Homo sapiens: one gene and its partner. The protein of the gene in region 1 interacts with the protein of each later gene in a pairwise test. Each region holds a gene or a part of one and is shown on either strand. Other genes may lie near its edges.

What was found. Proteins that work in one complex are often made in the same cells at the same time.
Region 2: the proteins of ZNF587 (region 1) and PBX2 interact in binary tests that used the Homo sapiens proteins (3 or more experiments, as listed by UniProt).

What each region holds. Positions count from the first base shown.
Region 1 is NC_000019.10:57,845,768-57,852,862, reverse strand, and holds the start of ZNF587 (zinc finger protein 587), read right to left. Parts: upstream 3,005-7,095; 5' UTR 2,825-3,004; coding exon 2,792-2,824; intron 2,549-2,791; exon of another isoform or gene 2,302-2,548; intron 1-2,301. UniProt on the Homo sapiens protein: May be involved in transcriptional regulation.
Region 2 is NC_000006.12:32,184,233-32,187,241, forward strand, and holds the end of PBX2 (pre-B-cell leukemia transcription factor 2), read right to left. Parts: intron 2,670-3,009; coding exon 2,581-2,669; intron 2,459-2,580; coding exon 2,372-2,458; intron 2,243-2,371; coding exon 2,150-2,242; 3' UTR 501-2,149; downstream 1-500. UniProt on the Homo sapiens protein: Transcriptional activator that binds the sequence 5'-ATCAATCAA-3'. Activates transcription of PF4 in complex with MEIS1.

The DNA of each region.
Region 1 (7,095 bases):
AAAAAAAAAAAAAAAAAAAAAAGCCTAGCTGTCTCGGCTGGGCGCATTGGTCCATGCCTATAATCCCAGCACTTTGGGAGGCCGAGATGTGACGATCACTTGAGGTCAGGAGTTCGAGACCAGCCTGGCCAACATGGTAAAACCTCGTCTCTACTAAAAATACAAAAATTAGCTGGGCATGATGGTGGGTGCCTGTAATGCCAGCTACCTTGAATGCTGAGGCAGGAGAATTGCTTGAACCTGGGAGGCAGAGGCTCCAGTGAGCCCAAGATTGCGCCATTGCACTCCAGCCTGGGCAACAAGACTGAAATTCCACGTTAAGAAAAAAAAAAGAAAACCTAGCTGTCTCTTTACAAAAAGTGAATCCTGAATCCAGACCCATGTGATTTACCACTTATCTGATCCATTAACCCTCACCTGGATTATGGCAGGAGCCTTATCTCTGACCTTTCTTCCTCTTCCCTCAACCCACAGTCTATGCAACAAGGTCCAGCCAGATGAAGCCTGTAGCCAGGTAGAACTGTGGTAATATCACCTCCTGACTTTGATCCGTTTTATCTCTAAGCATTTCACAACCTGGTAGCAAATCCTGGGTTAATCTTACAAGGGTGTTTACATTGGTTGACAGAAATGGGAATACCTCCATATAACCTGTCATGGACTTGGTATCCTGGCTTCAGAGATTCTCCAGGGTCCTCGGATCAAAGGACTGAAAAAAATGGCACTTAAGAGTCCCAGGACACCACAAGCTAGAGAACCTGTAGATGGCGTCAGGACCAATGAGGGAATGGAACACCCTCCACTTCCCTGTGTGGGTTCCCTAAGTGCTTCTGCAGCCAGGAGTGCCTGAGGGGAAAGGCAGACATTACAAACATGTCACAGGATTTGATAAGCTCAGGACTCCCTGAACCCTTTCTTGTCCCTGGAACCAGGTAACCCTAAGGCTGGTTGTCTGACCTGCTTTTCTCAGTGCAAAATGTCATCTCTACCATCTATGTGATCTACAAAACGGATTCAACCTCCCAAGGCCCCAAAGTCCTCATCCTCTCTCTCTATGATGTTCTTCCTTTGATTGGCCTTTGGGAAACTTCTTAAAAGCCTGGATTTGGATCATGTCCCTCCTTTCTTCAAAACTCTCCATGGCTTCTAGAATCCTCATGATGAATGCACAGCCCCTGGCCTGCTTGCTCTACCAGGAAGAGCTCCATCTCACACGTTGTTCCTGACAGATGCCTGTGAACCCCAGGTTCCATCCTTCCAGCTCTGTCCATCTGCAGGCCATTGCCTGCACCCCTACCTGTGCCTGTCACTCTCCCCACTGCATCCCACTGGTGTCAGAAACAGGTGAAACCGACTTTGCAAAATTATAACTGACGAAATTATGACAGTGAAAGAAATCAGACCTAACCGACTCCATCTTGCTTCCAACCTTTCAGCCGTCTTTTTTCATTCCTGGGCATAGGCTGAATTAACTTTGGAAAAGAATTCAGTTCATGGTTTCACTCTGAAACAAAATTGATAATAGCCCTTTCCTGAAAAGACCCCTTTCTTGCCTGGGGACCAGCCTGTCTTTGCAGGACTAACAAATTAGCTACAAGAATAGAAATTACGGTTTAGGGGTCATGCAGCTTCTGGCTCCAAGAGTCTGAACCTCCCCAAGTTGCTCCTGAAGATAACCTTACTATTGTAAAACCTAATGTGAGTTTCTGGGGTGCTAGTTGAGTTGGTCTCCCCTGTGTGAGACACCCATGGGAAGCCATGGGCGGCCTCTGAGGAGAAAAGTCTCCTTATTGCCTTCATGTCTTTATGCCCCGAGAGCATAACTCTTCAGCAGCATTCCATGGGTTGCTCAGGGAGATCACACTCCCTTGAAGCAGTGGAGCATAATCAAACATCTTGGCTCCTCCTGAAACCCGCAGCCACCCGTTTCAGTTAAGTTAAAGATCTTAAGTAGTTTAGACACACGCCTTTGTTCAAGGAAATTCACAGAAACGGCCAGTGCTTTACATCTTATGGAATGACTCACGAGTTCTCCTTTACTGATTAATCCTTTTCCTGATCGCTTCCTCCCCCTCCAATCAGCCATAAGAACAAAGAGCTTGTAAACCAATAAACTGGGTGGAGCCCAAGAGCTCTGGGCCGCCAGGAAGCCTCCAATGCTCTGGCCACCTGGACCCGCCTTTTAAATGCGTATTCTGTCTCTTTCTAACTCCTTTGTCTCCGCAGGACTCGGGGTATCTGCTGGGTGGTGTGGGGCTGGTTTCCCCAATATCTAAGATCAGTGCTTGGGGCATTTTGCAGATCCTGCACTGGATGGATCAGCGGACAACACACAGACCGGTAATCTGGGTCAATCAGTTCTGCCATCCCACCCAGAACAGAAAACAGCATGAAAAACTCACTTTAACCCCCTATGAATCCATCTCCAACCAGACTGATCAGCACTCCCCACTTCCCAAGCCCCTACCCGCCAAATTTTGAAAACTCTGATCCCAGAATGCTCAGGGAGACTGATTTGAATAATAAAACTCCTGTCTCCCGAACAGCAGGACGGCTCTGCGTGAATTACTATTTCTCCATCGCAATTCCCCAGTCTTCATAAATCGGCTCTGTCTAGGCAGCTGGCAACGTGAACCCACTGGACGGTTACAAGGAGAGGCCTCCTGTGAGCGCCTCAGTGTTCCTACGCCGGGTACCGGCTACAGACCCACGAGCAGGAGCCGCTCCCTCGCTGGTTTAGGACCTGGGTGACGATGGGGTGACCTGAGGGCACAGAAGGCACCACAATTACCTGAGTTGGGCGCCTCGGCACAGCCGCTGCCATCGGACTACTTGGGGAAGCACGGCCCGGGAGCAGTGGTCGCCGTCACGGGGCTGCAGAGCCGCCTCTGGGCACCGAGGACGATTCCTCTCCACCTTCTAGGTTCAGTCACCGCGGTCCCACCCAGCACTCAGGGGCCACAAACTGGGGAAACACCCGCATCGCCGATACACAGCCGCTACTAGAGACCCCGGAAGTCTCGGCCTTACGTTACGTGCACACGTGGAAATGCCTTCTTTCCGAGTGCTCACTGGCTCTGACCGGCTGTCGTTTAAAGCAGAGCTTTCTGGGTAATGTAGTTCCCCACTTTCCATGACACAACATGGTTACCAGGTTCTGAAATGTTCATGGCTCAGATGCACCTCCAAGCCTTTGTACCTATTGGTTCCTCTACCTGTATTACTCTAGCTGGGGTGAAGCCTGTAATACACAGCATTTACCTGAGCTAGGTCCCTCAGTGTGGCTGCTGCCATCAACTGTGGGTGGAGCAGGCATCACCCCAGCCAGTGCCTATGAGCCTCAGACCTGCCACTTGGGAGCAGAGATGACTACTCCTCTTGTGCCTTCTCAGTCCCAACCCAGTACTCCCTGGCCTGACAAGCATGCCCAGAAATCCCTCATCCTGGGCCTTGCAACTAGCGCCTTCTGGGTAAAGTACTTCCCAGAGCTCTCAGCCAACAATGGTGGTATCCTCCAAGAGCAAACCGAATGCAGACCATGTTACATTCTGAGGGCTGCTGGAAAGCCCTGCTCACACCTCAAAGGAGGAAGATTATTGATTCTTTGTAAAAGCATCAAATAGGTATCACATCAGACTCTAGGAAGCTCATCCTGCACCCAGAGAATAAAAATACTATTTGAGATGCTCCCAAACTTTACTTATCTAAGTGGCCATATCATTGGCATCATTCAGACTTACAATGTGTGCACTCAGAGCTGAGAACATTAAGTATTGATTGCTCTTTAAATTCACGTAGACTGAATCATTACAGTCAGTTTTGCGAGTTTCATTGTTTTGTTGGGAACAAAAGAAAATTCTCCATAAGACATGATGACAGGATGGGTACAAAAAACAGTGAGCAAAAATGAATAAGACCTAATATTTGCTACCATAACAGGGTGGCTATAGTCAAAATAATTTAATTATATATTTAAAAATAACTAAAAGAGTATAACTGGACTGTTTATAATACAGAGGATAAATGTTGAGGTGACTGAGACCCCATTTACCCTATGTGATTATCACATATGGCATGGCTACATCAAAATATCTAATGTAATCTACAAATATATACACTACTATATACCCACAAAAAATAAAAATAAAGGCCAGACATGGTGGCTCACACCTGTAATCCCAGCACTTTGGGAGGCCAAGGCAGGTGGATCACCTGAGGTCGGGAGTTCGAGACCAGCCTGGCCAACATGGAGAAACCGTGTCTCTACTGAAAGTACAAAATTTTCCAGGCATGGTGCTGCATGCCTCCAATTCCAGCTACTCGGGAGGCTGAGGTAGGAGAATTACTTGAACCCTGGAGGTGGAGGTTGCGATGAGTCGAGATCATGCCATTGCACTCCAGCCTGGGCAACAGGAGTGAGACTCTGTCTCAAAAAAAATAAAAAATAAAAAATAAATAAATTGCTGGGTGCAGTGGCTCATGCCTATAATCCCAACACTTTGGGAGGCTGAGTCAGGTGGATCATGAGGTCAGGAGTTCGAGACCAGCCTGACCAATATGGTGAAACCCCATCTCTAATAAAAATAAAAAAATTAGCCGGGCACGGTTGCTCACGCCTGTAATCCCAGCACTTTGGGAGGCCGAGGTGGACAGATCATGAAGTCAGGAGATCAAGACCATCCTGGCTAACACAGCAAAACCCATGTTAAAAAAATTGCTGGGCATGGTGGCAGACACCTGTAGTCCCAGCTACTCGGGAGGCTGAGGCAGGAGAATCGCCTGAACTCTGGAGGCAGAGGTTGCAATGAGCTGAGATCGCATGACTGCACTCCAGCCTGGCGACAGAGCTAGACTCCGTCTCAAAAAAATAAAATAATAATAAAGATCTAATGACAGGGAAATAGACGGATGTTGGTACACCCTGAAGCAGGTAGTGAAGCTGGCAGTTGGCCACTGGTTCCCACAGAAAATTGCTCTAGTGATGCTAGCAAATCCCAAAATTGGGGCTCAATCCAGGAGGGTTCCTGGCTTCATAAAGGAAATAATTCAAGAGCAAGCCAAGAGTGTAAAGTGAAGGCAAAGCAAGTTTATGAGAGCAAGAGAACAGGAAAATGGCTGCTCCACAGACAGAGCAGGGCTACTCCACAGGCAAAGTAGCACCCGTGGATTGTTGGCTAGCTATATTTATAGCTACTCCTTAATTATGTGCTAAATAAGAGGTGGGTTATTCATGAATTTTCTAGAAAAAGAGTGGGGAGTTCCCAGAACCAGGGGTTCCTTCTCTTTTAAACTACATGAGGTAGCTTCTGGGCATTGCCATAGCATTTGTAAACGGCCATGGTGCTGGTGGGAGTGTCTTTTAGCATGCTAATACATTATAATGAGCATATAATGAGCAGTGAGGCAATGAGGGTAACTAGAGTTCATATTCTTGCCATCTTAGTTTTACTGCTTTCAGCTGGTTTCTTTAGTGCATCCTGTTTTGACCAGATCCTGTTTCATCATGAGCAGGGTCATGACCAGTGCTCAGAACACAAGTCCTGCTGATCTATGTCACTATGAGGATCACTATGTCAATATGTTTCTTAATTCATATGCTAAGGTGTACTCAATTTCTTTAATCACATTGACATCTATCTCAAAGGACGAGCAACTTAGCCAATGCCATTGTGGTACACACATCAGTCGCTACAACTTTCACCATTAAAGCACAGGTTAAAAAGGCCATCTGAATAACAATATAAACACGGCATCTGAGCTCCAAAATTTCATCTCCTTACAAGAAAGTGGTTATTATTTTCCAGTGACTGCAGGAATAGTTTCACACTGGGAACTGGGATTATCTCAGAATAAATTTTTTTTTTTCTTTTTTGAAACAGAGTCTCACTCTGTTGCGCAGGCTGGAGTGCAGTGGTGTGATCTCAGCTCACTGTAACCTCTGCCTCCTGGGTTCAAGTGATTCTCCTGCCTCAGCCTCCTGAGTGAGTAGCTGGGATTACAGGCATGCGCCACCATGCCTGGCTAATTTCTGTATTTTTAGTACAGATGGGGATTCACCATGTTGGCCAGCCTGGTCTCAAACTCCTGACCTCAAGTGATCCACCCACCTGCGCTTCCCAAAGTGCTGGGATTATAGGCGTGAGCCATCGTGCCTGGCCTCAGAATCAATTACAGGTGCGGTGGCTCATGGCTCAGGCCTGTAATCTGAGCACTTTTGTAGGCCAATGCAGGCAGATCACTTGAGGCCCAGAGTTTGAGATGAACCCGGTAACACAGTGAAACCCCATCTCTACTAAAAATACAAAAAACAGCTGGGCATGATGGCTTACGCATGTAATCCCAGCTACGTGGGAGGCTGAGGTGGGAGACTCACTTGAACCTGGGAGGTGGAGGTTGCAATGAGCCAAAATCACACCACTGCACTCCAACCTGGTAGAGAGTCTTGAAAAAAAAAAAAAAAAAAAGTATGCAGCAACTAAAATATCCATAAATGGATGGATGAATGAATGAATATACAATGACATTTCACGGCAGACTATACTTCTCAGCAACATAAAACGAATGAACAACTCATATATCTACAATGACATCAAAATAAGCATGATGCAGGAGAGCACCCAGGGATTATAAGAGGAAACACTTTATTACATCAGTCAGAAAATTCCAGAAAATGGAAAGTACTCCATCATACAGCAAAGTAAATCAATGGTTGTTTGAAGAGCAGAGAGAAAAACTTTATAAAGGCTCCAAGTAAATACAAAGGTGATAGATTAGATAAATTCATTATGGTGACTCTGATGATGGTTTCACGGGATTATAATAAAATTCAAGACTTATCCTACAGCTCAAATATGTGTACTTTATTGGATGTCATTTATATCTTTATTTTATTTTTAAGATGGGGTCTCACTCTATCACCCAGGCTGGACTGCAGCGTTGCAATCTTAGCTCACTGCAACTTCTGCCTCCCAGGCTCAAGCAATCCTCCCACATCACTAAGACTAAGGTACATGCCACCATACCTGGCTATTTTTCCTAGAGACAAGGTTTTGCCATGTTCCCCACACTGGTCTCAAGGAATCTGGCCTCCCAAAG
Region 2 (3,009 bases), on another chromosome or scaffold:
TCCAGGGTCCTGGCTCTGTCTGCCCCTCTCCCTGCTGTGGCCTCCGCCCTAGGTGGGGCCTGCACCCTCTCTCCAGCCCCCATCTTTCAGTCGTCTTGTCACAGGGAATGCTAGGAATTCATGCCTTTGGGACAAGAGTCCTTCAGGTACTAGAGAAATAATTATCACCCCACCCCTGGGTACTACCAGCCTCTGGGTACAGTCACTTCCCTGGGGGATGGGGAGTGTACCCTCTAGGGTCTCATTCCCTCAGAGCCCCCGATCCTATTTATTCCATCAGTCCATCAGGGCTGCCTGGTGACCCACTGGAGCCCCATCTTGATTGCGCAAAGTTGCATCAATAGGGTTCAGGCCAGACTGTTGTCTGCAAGGGTGCAATTGGGCCTGCATCATGAAGGCAAGGCTGGGGAACAGGAGAGAAACCTGTTTGGAACTTCGTGAAAGAAAATCATTTTTTTTCTGGGGTTTCTCATGTTTTTTGAAAAAAATTCTCAACTAAACCCAGGGAAAAAAGAAATTTCTTTATTTAAAACTGCATTTTGTTTTTTTTCTGTGAAACTACACAAGTTTACAAGTGAGGAGAGAACTGCCCCCGGCCCATGCCTCCCACCCCCCCACCCATCACACTTCCAACCTGTCCCCAGTCCTGCCCGGATCTTTAATGGGAGGGGTTCCCCACTCTGACAGTCTTGTAAAATCCTGAGAATGTCTGAGGGGATCAGATGGTAGCTAGTTCAGGGCTGAGGATGGGACAGTGTTGATGTTACTTTTCCCCCACATCTGGCTTTTTGCAACCTCCTCCCTCTCCCTACCCCTTGATTTTGGTGTGACAAAAAGATACCTCATTTATGGGGAAATTGAGGAAGATACATATACAAGCACCCCAACCCATATTTAACATATTTGGCAATAACTCCCTTCCCATTCTTCCCCCTCCAATTTTCAAATAGTAGTTTTTTAAAAAATTAAAGACATGTCACTCACAGGGGAAGATGGCATCTTCAATTTCCTCAAAATTACTGAGTCCAGCCCTGCCCAAGGGTTGTGGGAAGAAGGGGGATGAGAGGCCAGCAGGGCAAGCCCTTCACTGCCTCCACATCAAATGCGGCAGAAACCTGCCTGCATGAACAAAGAACACCTAAGGGATTTTAGGGGGCAAAGCTTGGTGCCCTGTAAAATTTACTTCCTGATGGACAGGCCTGGAGCCAGGGGGGCCTCTTTACCAGTTCTGTTTGTCCCCCTTTCTCTTACCAGAACCCCTTTGGCTATCACCCCTAATATGGGAAAGTAAGAAATAAAAAAAAAAAAAGACAAGAAATCAACATATTTATAAAAAAAAAAACAAGCTACTTCCCCAAACTAAATTAAAAATTAAGAACCACCACCACCACCACCACCAACAACAACAAAAACAACAACAACAACAAAAAAAACAGATGGATCCCAGGGTTTCTTTTTCTTTCTTTAAAAAAAAAAAAGTTCAACCCCAAAGCCCAGTCAATAATTCCCTAAAGTAGCAGAAACTCCCTCCGAGGTAGATATCTGAGTCAGACACTCTCGTCCACCGAGCGATTCTATTGGTTTAAGATGAGCTGCGTATGAGGTAAGTAAGCCGTCCGGAGGGGCGGGGGTGGGGATGCATGGGGGCGTGGCCCATGTCCTCTGTCCAGAAGTCATGTCCCCATTTTTGGCATCTCTGATTGGGCAGGGCTGGCGTCTCCACAGATTCCAGAGCATACAAGTGGGGTGGGGAAGGGAAAGTGGGGGAGCCCAGGAGAGAAACAGAATAGTTGCAAGTGGGAGTATGTGTGTGTGAGGTGTGGGAGAGGGAGAGAGAAAGACAGAGGAGAAAAAGGGGTCTGAGAAATAGGTTTCTCGGTATGTGTATGTTTCTGTGTAAGAAAGAAAGCGAGAGAGGAAAAAGATGGAAAAAAGGGAGAGACAGACCCCACACTCCCCTTAGAGGCCCCATTCTTCCTGCCATGTAATTAGCACCCCCAGCACAGAGAGTCTCGTTAGGGAGGGGATGACCCCATTGGCCCTTCTCTGTCTTGTGCTTCTCCTGTATTGGGGTTTGTCCTCTGGAAGCCTGCGTCCTCTTCAAGTCGCCTTGTGAGAGCCCCCACCCCTGTGACCCTGAGGGGCAAGATCAGTTGGAGGTATCAGAGTGAACACTCCCTGGTCCCTCCGTTGGGGATGTCACTGAAGAGGGGGTCACAGCCTCTTGCCAGCTGCCATTTGCCTGAAAGGAGAGACAGAGTACAGAAAACAGAGAAAGCCCTGGGAACCCTGTGTGGGCACAACATTACTAGGGAAAATGCCCCTCTGTCCTGTGAGAACTGGACAGAGAGGAGCTTCAGGATCCACTCACCCTCATTTCCCGTGGGCTGTACATCTGGCCTCCCCCGAGGTTATCCCCATAGCCCCCTGGCCCCATCGAGTGTCGGAGTGATTCCACCTGCAGGCAGCAGAGGAAGGTATGACAGTGAAGAGAAGCCTCAGAGGAAAGAGGTCTTGTATCCTAAAGTAGAGGAAATGGAGTTGGGGAAAGCCCTATTCGAGAGGAGATGGGCATCTGACCTGGGAAGCAGAATAGGAATCTCCGTTGAGCCCAGGCATCCCCAGAAACATGTCTCCAGATCCTGAGAGATTGAAAGAGCCGCCAGAGCCTTGTGGGGGCAGAGAGGGAAGAGTGTAATAGAGCCCGTGATGGTAGAGGATGAACCACAACTCTCAACTCTTGTGGGGACATGCTACTATACTCCAATTATCCACAAAATAACATTCCAACACACAGAAAGAGCAGGCTGTTCCTTGGCCACCCGTGGGAAGAAAGGCAGAACTAAGATCACTGGAATGGCCTCTGTCCCCTGACATCTCCAGCCTATCTCAGCTCGGTCCCTCTCACCCCAAAAGGCCCCCTCTCTGCTATGATCCTGCCTAGATAGGAAGTGGGAACAAAAGCAGGAAGTGTGCAAAACAGTCAGCCGGGGTGACAGTGGGATCCAC